Linked DNA regions of Homo sapiens: region 1 is linked to region 2. Evidence: fine-mapped expression QTL. A gene starts in region 2. The other region holds a variant in brackets. All regions are shown on one strand. Distances are between the middles of the regions. Region 1 overlaps CIDEC (cell death inducing DFFA like effector c). Region 2 holds the start of JAGN1 (jagunal vesicle mediated transporter 1).

Evidence for each region. PIP is the estimated chance that this variant, and not a neighbour inherited with it, causes the effect.
Region 1: its variant is the best candidate, but not a certain one, in a credible set for the expression of JAGN1 in subcutaneous fat (GTEx, PIP 0.84).

The regions. Positions count from the first base shown.
Region 1 is chr3:9,862,572-9,868,087 of GRCh38, forward strand. CIDEC (cell death inducing DFFA like effector c) reads right to left here. Exons shown (of 7, transcript NM_001321142.2): 7 at 4,143-4,725. The coding sequence ends at 4,563. Among named protein-coding and RNA genes, the nearest start is that of CIDEC, 15 kb to the right of the region's middle. RefSeq lists silencers at 114-408, 1,514-1,808. The variant C/T (reference allele first, on the strand shown) is at 3,142.
Region 2 is chr3:9,888,366-9,893,365 of GRCh38, forward strand. It overlaps JAGN1 (jagunal vesicle mediated transporter 1), which reads left to right and starts at 2,245. Exons shown (of 2, transcript NM_032492.4): 1 at 2,245-2,446; 2 at 4,550-5,000. The coding sequence starts at 2,358.

The DNA of each region.
Region 1 (5,516 bases), 26 kb before region 2:
TAGGAAGGACAAACTCCAAAACCCAGGGATCCAAAGGATCCATGGGAAGATCGGGTGGCTCAGGGGAGTGACTCCCCGGCTTGGTCGGCGCTTTGAGGCCCCGGGGACCCAGCGGAGAGGGCTCGGGTGAGGCATCTGGAGGCGCTGAATGGGGCCGGGAGCCGCGGGACCCGCAGAGGGCGCCTGTCCGTGTGGGCGCAGCAGCGCCTAGAGGGAGGCGGCCCCGGCAGCCCGCAGGGGTCAGGCTCTGCTGGAGCAGGGGCGTCCCTGTCTCCGCTTCCCAGCGCAGGCTGGGTGGGGCCGATGGCCATTAAAGCCCCGCCCCCCGCGGCTCACCGCCGCCTGGCCCCGTCCCCGAGGCCAGAAAAGAGGAGACCCGAGGCCGTCAGACCGCCTGTCAAGGGCTGTCCTGGAGCCTGGCACCTTCCCCTCGCTCCCCGTCTGACCCCCAGAGGCCGTGCTGTCCAGGCTGACCCCGACTCTGAGCCATCGGGATGCCTGTCCACGCCTCCACTCCTGGGCCACTTCCCCGTGGGGCGAGCAGAAGGGCGGGCCGGGTGGGAATCTGTTGTACCCAGGGAAGGGAATTGCCAACAGGCCCAGAGAGTTTGAAGCCTGGGGTACTGTCACCAACAGGCCAGTAGCCTCGCAGCTGGGCCCTGCCCTAGAGTCTTCCTGCAGCAGGGCGCTTCTCCGGAGGAGCTGTGAATGTTTTCCCGGGTGGGGCTGAAGCCAGAGCCCAGAGGTTTGCCCCTGGGGCACGGATCCTCCAGGTCACTCGCCCCCCTACGGGCTGCAGTGAAGAAGGCTCTGAGGGGAGGATGGCCAGCGCCTCCCCTGCAAGGATAGGGGCCCCTGGGAACCCATTCCTGCTCTGGGGATTGCCTCCCTCCCCTACATCAGAGCCATCCACCGCAGAAGCTTGGCCAAGCTGACCACTCTGTCAGTGATCTCTGCCAGGGAGGCTGAAAGAACATCCAGCCCCACCCGTGGTCCCTTCCCGCCTCAGGCTATGTGACAGTATGACTCTCCACCTATTTCTTCGTTTCCACTGGAAACACTAGTAAAACAATTCCTCAGCCTCGACCCCAGGGAGCGGCCCCCACTAAACCAGCTGACGTGGGACCCCTGGGTCAATGCTGGCCAGGAGATGCGGCTGACATCAAAGACCCTGGGCCCCTGGGCCCCCTACAACCCTGGTCACGGTGGCCATGGGATTCCAGGCAGCACACATCTCAGAATCAGTATTTCCCCCACCCCACAAAAAATACATATATGGGTCGGGCGCGGTGGCTTGCGCCTGTAATCCCAGCACTTTGGGAGGCCGAGGCCGGCGGATCACGAGGTCAGGAGATCGACACCATCCTGGCTAACACGGTGAAACCCCGTCTCTACTAAAAATACAAAAAATTAGCTGGGCGTGGTGGCGGGTGCCTGTAGTCCCAGCTACTTGGGAGGCTGAGGCAGGAGAATGGCATGAACCCGGGAGGCGGAGCTTGCAGTGAGCCGAGATCACACTACTGCACTCCAGCCCAGGCGACAGAGTGAGACTGCGTCTCAAAAAAAAAAAAATTATATGCACAAATATGGGCATCGCTGGTAAGAAGAGTGGCAAAAACACAAGTGGTTCTCTTGTTTTGGGCTCAGACATGTGACTGTGGCATCACAGGCCCCCGGGATTTAGAATTCTTCTGAAAGGCATCCTGTGCACTCCCGAGCACCAGCTTGAACAGATGAAAAGGCTGAGCTGGAGGGGCTGGGACACAGTCCACCTTGACGACAGCTGCTCCTGGCTGTGCGGGGGGCCCCAGGAAAGGCCGTTCCCCCACTAGGACCGCCAGGCCCTACAGAGGCTCAAACTCCTTTGCTGTTTGGAATCTTCCCTCCCCAGCCCCCAAGCCTCATCAGAGGCTGCCTTTTCTGTTCACTGACCACAGCTGCTTTGACTCCATTAGCCTCGAGCTCCTGGAAGAAAAGAAAGAACCTTGTTTTCCCTGGGCTCAATGCCAAGAGACCATGGGCAGTTGCTCAAGATTCACTTGTGAAACTCCGGATCTCAGGAGGAGGGAAGCTTGGGACAAATACCGAGCCTCCCACCCCCACTCCAACTCTGTTACTGAGCACTTTACGGAAGGAGCAGGTAGGCCCCGCCACAGCTTCATCAAGGGTGGACTGGGATAGCTTCTGTGCTAATACAAACATCAGGCCTCCCTGCCAGACAGCCCACCCCATGGAGCCAGCCTGGCACCGGGCCAGCCTCCAGCCATAACTGCAAAAGAGCAGGAGAGCCCGGAATAGCAGGCCCTCTTCAGCGAGCTTCAGCCGCTTTGCCCATAGGCTGCAGGGTTTGGGTCCGCTGCCATAAATAGCTCCCAGACCATCTTTGGTAATATAGGCCTTTGCCTTAGTATTTACTACATCCAAATAGGCTTTATAGTAAGAGTAGTGAAACAATAGGTTTTGTTTTGTTTTTCGTTTTTTGTTTGTTTGTTTCTTTTTTGAGACGGAGTCTCACTCTGTCGTCCAGGCTAGAGTGCAATGGCACAATCTCGGCTCACTGCAACCTGCACCTCCCAGGTTCAAGCAATTCTCCTGCCTCAGCCCCCCGAGTAGCTGAGATTACAGGTGCCCACCACCATGCCCGGCCAATATTTTGTACTTTTAGTAGAGACGGGATTTGGCCATGTTGGCCAGGCTGCTCTCAAATGCCTGACCTTGTGATCCACCCGCCTTGGCCTCCCAAAGCGCTGGGATTACAGGCGTGAGCCACTGCGGCTGGCTGTGATAGAGTTTTTGAATCCTCTTTTTTTTTTTTCCCAGAGACAGGCTCTCACTCTGTTGCCCAGGCTGGAGTGCAGTGGCACAATCATAGCTCACTGCAGCCGCGACCTACTGGGCTCCAGTGAACCTCCTGCCTCAGGCTCCTGAGTAGCTGGGACTACAGCCACCATGCTCTGCTAATTTTTTTTTATTATCTAGTGTAGAGACAGGGTCTGGCTATGTTGCCCAGGCTGCTCTTGAACTCCTGGCCTCAAGCGATACTCCTGCCTCAGCCTCCCAAAGTGCCGGGATATCCGGCATGAGCCACTGCACCTGGCCAAGTTTTTAAATCTTTCAGTCACAGACTAAATAAAACAGTCA[C/T]CTACAAGTTCTACAAGTTCAGCCTTTTTTTTTTTTTTTTGAGATGGAGTCTCGCTCTGTCACCCAGGCTGTAGTGCAGTGGCACGATCTTGGCTTACCACAACCTCTGCCTCCCAGGTTCAAGCGATTCTACTGCCTCAGCCTCCCAAACAGCTGGGAGTACAGGCGCCTGCCATGCTGGCCAGCTAATTTTTTTGTTTTTAATAGAAACCGGGTTTCACCATGTTGGTCAGGCTGGTCTTGAACTCCTGACCTCAGGTAATCTGCCTGGCTCGGCCTCCCAAAGTGCTGGGATTACGGCGTGAGCCACCATGCCCAGCCTAAGTTCAGCCTTTCATGCTTGTCTTGAGTTGTCCAATACTGGAAAATGCCAGCTCACACTGATGAGAAGCTCCTACTCTTTGGGGCTACCTATGAGCCCACTTTGAAATCCCGAGGTTGAAAGTCCTGAACATGAAAGATAAGCTGTCTGGCAAGTTAGGATGGGCATTGATGGAGAAATGCCTTACAGCTTGAGTAGTACTTTTTCACCTAACCACTTAAACGGTTATTATAAAATGGGACACTGAGAAATTAGAAGAGTGACTTAATCCCACCTGCTCAATTGAAGCTCCTCTGATAGGTGAATTTAATTAGGAAATTGTTACTTATGGTATCAATTACATGGTCAGCTCAAGCCTCAAATTCAGCTGACTTTAGTTTCAAAATCAACTGCAATTTTGTTTTTTAAGGAGCCTGGGGTCTTGCTATTGTGCTCCAGCCTGGCCTTGAACTCCTGGTCTCAAGGGATGCTTCCACCCCAGCTTGCTGAGTATCTGGGACTGCAGGCACGTGTCACTGTGCCCAGCTGTTTTTTTTTTTCTTCTTTGGTAGAAAAAGTGCCATTAGCTGTAATCCTACATTAAAGAGAATACTTTGACAATAGATTCGTCTCTTCCTTTAGCCCCCTCCAACCTTCCAGATAAAACCCCACCCCAAAGAACACAGGCAAAGAAGATACATCAGCCTCAATAATTTATTGCAAACTCCCTAATATCACATGCTAGTGCGCTTGCGAATTCACTCAGGAATGTTCCGGGATGGGGGCCAGAAGGTAGAGAGCACCATGAAAGTACAGCCTGCGAGGCCAGATTGCTAAGGGGCAGACTTCATGCCAATGGAGGGACAGACTTCAGGACCAGTCTGGATGGGCTAAGCTGCCTTGGGCAGGAAGGAGCTGGATCAGGCCAGGAGCTTGAGGTTCTCCTTTGGCCAACCCACCCCAGGTTTCCAGCTCCTCCTCCTCACTCAGGGTCCTGCGCGGTGAGGGAGGTGTGGGGAGGTTCGCGGCTCTACAGCTGCCAGGCTTGTGGGCACTACCAGTTAAGCGTGAGGCCCCCAGTCAGTCCTTCACTGGGGAAAGCTTCCAAGGACTTGGGCTTTCACTGCAGTATCTTCAGACAGGTCGGGATAAGGGATGAGGCCTTGCCCTTGGGGGGCTGCCCTTCCTCCGTAGCATCGAGGAGCTGCTGCAGGTAACAGGAGGTGCCAAGCAGTACGTGGCCTGTGGCCTGCATGCTGAAGAGGGCCCAGCGGAAAGCTTCCCTGGGTGGAATGAGAGGGCACGCAAGTCAAAACCACGAAGTAGGTCGGGCATGGCGTTCACGCCTGTAATCCTAGCACTTTGGGAGGCCATGGAGGGCGGGTAACCTGAGGTCAGGAGTTTGAGACTAGCATGGCCAACATGGCGAATCTCTGTCTCTACTAAAAATACAAAAACTAGGCAGGCATAGTGGTGGGTGACTGTAATCCCAGTTACTCCAGAGCCTGAGGCAGGAGAATCGCTTGAACCCAGGAGGCGGAGGTCACAGTGAGCCGAGGTGGCACCACTGCACTCCAGCCTGGGTGACAGAGCAAGATTCAGTCTCAAAAAACAATCAAACAAAAAACACAAGGCTGGGCTTGGTGGCTCATGCCTGTAATCCTATAACTTTAGGTGGCCGAGGTGGGTGGATCATTTGAGGTCAGGAGTTTGAGACCAGCCTGGCCAACATGGCGAAACCCCGTCTCTACTAAAAAATACAAAAAATTAGCCGGGCGTGGTGGCAGACACCTGTAATCTCAGCTACTCGGGAAGCTGAGGCACGAAAATCACTTGAACCTGGGAGACAGAGGTTGTAGTGAGCTGAGATTGTGCCACTGCACTCCAGCCTGGGTGACAGAGTGAGTCTCTGTCTCAAAAATAAATAAATACATAATAAATAAAAACAAGAGTGTACCCCCTCCCTGCACCCCCTTATTCCCATGCTGGCCTGGAAGGGATTGGTTTCATTATGTTTGTTTTCTTCATTAATAACATTTGAATACCACTGAGGTGGTAGCACTAAAAGCATTTC
Region 2 (5,000 bases):
TCCCAAAGTGCTGGGATTACAGGTGTGAGCCGTGCCCGGCCAATGTTGCTGATTTCTTGCTTGCCTTTCTCAGATCCCAGCCACACAGACTCCCTTCCTAGTGTGAGCCCCTTGCTGGTCATATGTGCTCTTGTTACCCACCTACAGATGTTAAATCCCAAGGAACTCAAATCTGTTCCTCTCTGTCCATTGCCACCTCCTAGCCCAAGCCACCCCTAGGATTGCCTGAATTACTGCAGTAGCCTTCAAGTGATTCCTCTGCTTCACCCTTGGCCCCTGCAAGCCATTCTCTACACAGCAACTAGATCTATCTTTATTTATTTATTTACAGACAGTGTCTTACTCTGTTGCCCAGAATGGAATGCAGTGGCATAATCATGGCTCACTGTAACCTTGAACTCCTGGTCTCAAATGATTCTCCCACCTCATCCTCCCGAGTAGCCTGGACTACAGGCACGCACCACCATGCCAGTTAATATTATTTTATTTTTTATTTTTGTAGAGACGGGAGTCTCACTATGTTGCCCAGGCTGATCTCCTGCCTTGGCCTCCCAAAGTGCTGAGATTACAGGCTTGAGGCACTGTGCCCCCACCTAGACCTATCTTTTAAAAATGCAAAACTGTGTCATTTTCCTGGTTAAACCTTTTAGTGGTTCCCCAAACCCCCTGGGATAAAGACTTAACTCTTTACTGAACCCTCCAAATGCTCCAGTCACTCTTAAGTTTCTCAGTTCTTTGAAGAGCCAAGTGCTCTCTGGATTTGGGGCCTTCACACATGCTGTTCCCTCTGCCTGAAAAGCTCTTCCGCTCCCCACCTCTTTAGCCAATTCCCACTCAGGCTTCAGACCTCAGCTCAATTGCTGCCACTCCAGAGAGACTTTCCTAACCCTCCAGGTCAGGGAGAGAGGCCTCATTTTTCCTCCCTCAGCCTCCTGTGTTTTCTTGAATTTCTTAGCTTCATGGGTACAAGTTCTTCCCCCGACTGGGCTGGGATCCCTCAGGGGAAATGGACCATGTTTATTTCTGCGTCCCCAGGTCATAGCAGAGCATCCTGGTGCATGGAAGATGCTCACTATACATGCTTTTTTCTTTCTTTTTTTCTTTATTCGGATAATATAACTTCTTTCTTTAAAGTTTCGCTTAGTATTTTGTTGTGGTAAAATGCACATAACATAAAACTTACTATGTTAATCATTTTTAAGTGTACAGTTTCCGTGGCATTAAGCACACACATATAGTTGTGCAATCAGTACCACCATCCATCTCCAGAACTTTTTTCATCTTCCCGAACTGAAGCTCTGTACCCATTAAACACTAGCTCCCCATTCTCTGTCCACCCCTCGAGCTTCTGGCAATGGTCATTCTACTTTGTCTCTACAGATAAAGTTTATTTGGAAATAATTTTTCTTTCATGGCCTTGACATTTTTGAAGAGTACAGTCCAGCTCTCTTCTAGACTGTCCCTCCGTCTGGATTTATGTCATTTCTTCATGATTAGATTCAGTTAGGTATTTTTGGCAGAAACATCATAGAAGTGATGCTGTGTCCTCAGTCTATTAAAAGAGGCACAAGATATCAGTTTATCTCATTATTGATCAAATTAACTGACTATATGTTTAAGGGAGACAAGCCAGATTTCCTCACTGAGAGATTCCCTGTTTCTCTTTGCAATAATTAAATGTGAGAAACTTATTTTGAGACAAAGTCTCACTCTGCACTCTGTCCCCCAGGCTGGAGTGCATTGGCACAATCTCGACTTACTGCAACCTCTGCCTCCCTGGTTCAAGCGATTCTCCTGCCTCAGCCACCCAAGTAGCTGGGGTCACAGGAACCCACCACACCTGGCTAATTTTTGTATTTTTAGTAGAGACGGGATTTCACCATGTTGCCCAGGCTGGTCTTGAACTCCTGACATCAAGTGATCCACCCACCTCGGCCTCCCAAAGTGCTGGGATTAAAGGTGTGAGGCTGTGTGAATGATGTGTGCTCCAGGGAAAGTCATAGAATATATCAGTTTCCCCCTCTGTAAAGTGTGGACAGAAGTATCCTAACTGATATTACAGCTTAAGAAAGTAAAAGTGTTCAAGCGGCCTCTGGGCGCCAGCAAAAGAGGCTGGGGATTAATTTCCTGCGCGCTCCACAAGAGGCGGGGCTGGGCGGGGCGGGGGCGAGAGGGAACGAGGGCGCCTGCGCGGAGAGGAGTGACCATAGAGTCGGTCCTCCAGAGACAGAGGGGCCGGAAGTTCTCTTCACGGAGCCGCGCGGCTGCGGGGGCGCAAATAGGGTCAGTGGGCCGCTTGGCGGTGTCGTTGCGGTACCAGGTCCGCGTGAGGGGTTCGGGGGTTCTGGGCAGGCACAATGGCGTCTCGAGCAGGCCCGCGAGCGGCCGGCACCGACGGCAGCGACTTTCAGCACCGGGAGCGCGTCGCCATGCACTACCAGATGAGGTATGAAGTGAGGCGAGGAGCACGGAGGCTTTCTCCCCCGCTGGAGCCTGCGGGGCTTGGGGAGCGACGCCGGCCCGGCCTCAGGGTCTTGCTCCCCAGCCAGCCCCCGCTCACCTGCCAAGTCCCCTCCTCCCGTGACGGCTTCGGGCCTGTCCCCCATCCTGGAAAGCCCCGTGGCCCCCGCGAGCTCCACCCCTTGTTCCGCCCGGTGCCTTGAGGGGATCCAGCCCCGCGTGGGCTCCCGCCCTGCGTGGGCTCCCGAGTCACGTCGATGCTGGCCCCGCTGTATCACCTTCGAAACCGAATTTCTAATTTGAGCCTCAGCTTCCTCATCTGTAGAGGGAGAGAATAATCTGCCTTTTAGGTTTTGGTGAAAGATTAATCAGTAATTCGTGTAAAGAAAGTAGCATAAGGCCTACCACGTAATATATGGTAGGTGTTATATTTTGGGCCGTTTGGGGGGATATAGACAGTAAAAGGCAGCCTTTCCTAAGGACGCCTTGCCTAAAATGAATTTTATAAACACTCCCACGTAAGGGGTATTTCTACATTCAATTACTAGTTCGACAAATACTGAGCTTCCAAACATCATACACTGCTAGACACTAGGTTATAATAGTGAGCAAAAGCAGACGTGGTCTTTGTATACATGTTATACCTTCAATAAACAATTTTATTAAAGAAAAAAAAAACTGTTCCCTGCCTTCATGGAGCTTGAAGTCTAGAGATGACTGTTTTTTTTTTCCAACCTTTCCACATTTTCTACAATAAATATTTTTAAATAAAAATTTTAAAATTTTTACTTCCTTAAATCCATTGATCTCTCCCAGAATGTTCTTCACATCTCTCTCTCCAGAGTTTTAAAGAATGACAAGCTCTTTGAACTCTCATTTGTTTCACATCTCTAGGCCCCGGCTGAAAGGGCCCTCACAACTTAAGCAGGTGTTTTCATGCCAGCCCAGAGTAGAAACATTGCCTTTAGGGATATGAGGAGGATACGTTTGGGACGTGAGAGAATTAGAAGAATAAGATAAGTATGTACTTCTTTTGGATGAAAAAATCTAGCTGGAGAAGTATGGGCGGCCTGAGTACGTTTCCTCTCTGCCAATACCTTCTCCCGCCAGACTTTAATCCTATGGTGCAGTCAGCGTCCTCTTGCTAAACACAGCTCTGAGCTACCCTTCTGCCTTTATTATTATTATTAATTTATTTATTTATTTTTGAGACGGAGTCACGGTCTGTCGCCCAGGCTGGAGTGCAGTGGCGCGATCTCAGCTCACTTGTAAGCTCCGCCTCCCGGGTTCACGCCATTCTCAGCCTCAGCCTCCCGAGTAGCTGGGACTACAGGCGCCCGCCACCACGTGCTGCTAATTTTTTTGTATTTTTAGTAGAGACAGGGTTTCACCGTGTCAGCCAGGATGGTCTCGATCTCCTGACCTCGTGATCTGCCCGCCTCGGCCTCCCAAAGTGCTGGGATTACAGGCGTGAGCCACCGCGCCCAGCCCTGCCTTTTTATTAGTAGTATTGTTGTTGTTTTTTTTTTTTATGGAGATGGGGTCTCATTTTGTTGCCAGGCTGGTCTCGAACTCCTGGGCTCAAGCAGTCCTCCTGCTTCAGCCTACCAAAGTGCTTGGATTAGAGTTGTGAGCCCAGCCTCTTCTACTTTTAACTCTCATAGTCTTTGTGATTCATATCCCACTACCCCTCTCCCCCTAACAATATGTTCCTGCCACACATAACCACTTGCTTTCCTGGAACACAAATACTTGGGCCTTTTTGTCTGCATGCTCCTGCATGGGATGCCCATCTTCACTCATTCCTGAGCCTAGTTCAGATATCACCTGCCTCTAGATAGCCATCTCTGACATTCCATGCCAGGCAGAGTTGATTCCTCCTTCCTGTGATCCCATATATCTGGGAACATATATTTACTAGAACTTTTTCACTTCATTTTCTAATTACTTTTTCCTCCTCTGTTCTTTGTGTCCGGCTTCTAGGCTGTTTTATTCAAATTTGTATCCCAGTGTCCAGTACAGTTGTCTGGCATATAGTTGGTGGTAAGAAAAATTTGAAAGATACTTCTCCCTCTGCTCTGCCCCACAGTGTGACTCTCAAGTATGAAATCAAGAAGCTGATCTACGTACATCTGGTCATATGGCTGCTGCTGGTTGCTAAGATGAGCGTGGGACACCTGAGGCTCTTGTCACATGATCAGGTGGCCATGCCCTATCAGTGGGAATACCCGTATTTGCTGAGCATTTTGCCCTCTCTCTTGGGCCTTCTCTCCTTTCCCCGCAACAACATTAGCTACCTGGTGCTCTCCATGATCAGCATGGGACTCTTTTCCATCGCTCCACTCATTTATGGCAGCATGGAGATGTTCCCTGCTGCACAGCAGCTCTACCGCCATGGCAAGGCCTACCGTTTCCTCTTTGGTTTTTCTGCCGTTTCCATCATGTACCTGGTGTTGGTGTTGGCAGTGCAAGTGCATGCCTGGCAGTTGTACTACAGCAAGAAGCTCCTAGACTCTTGGTTCACCAGCACACAGGAGAAG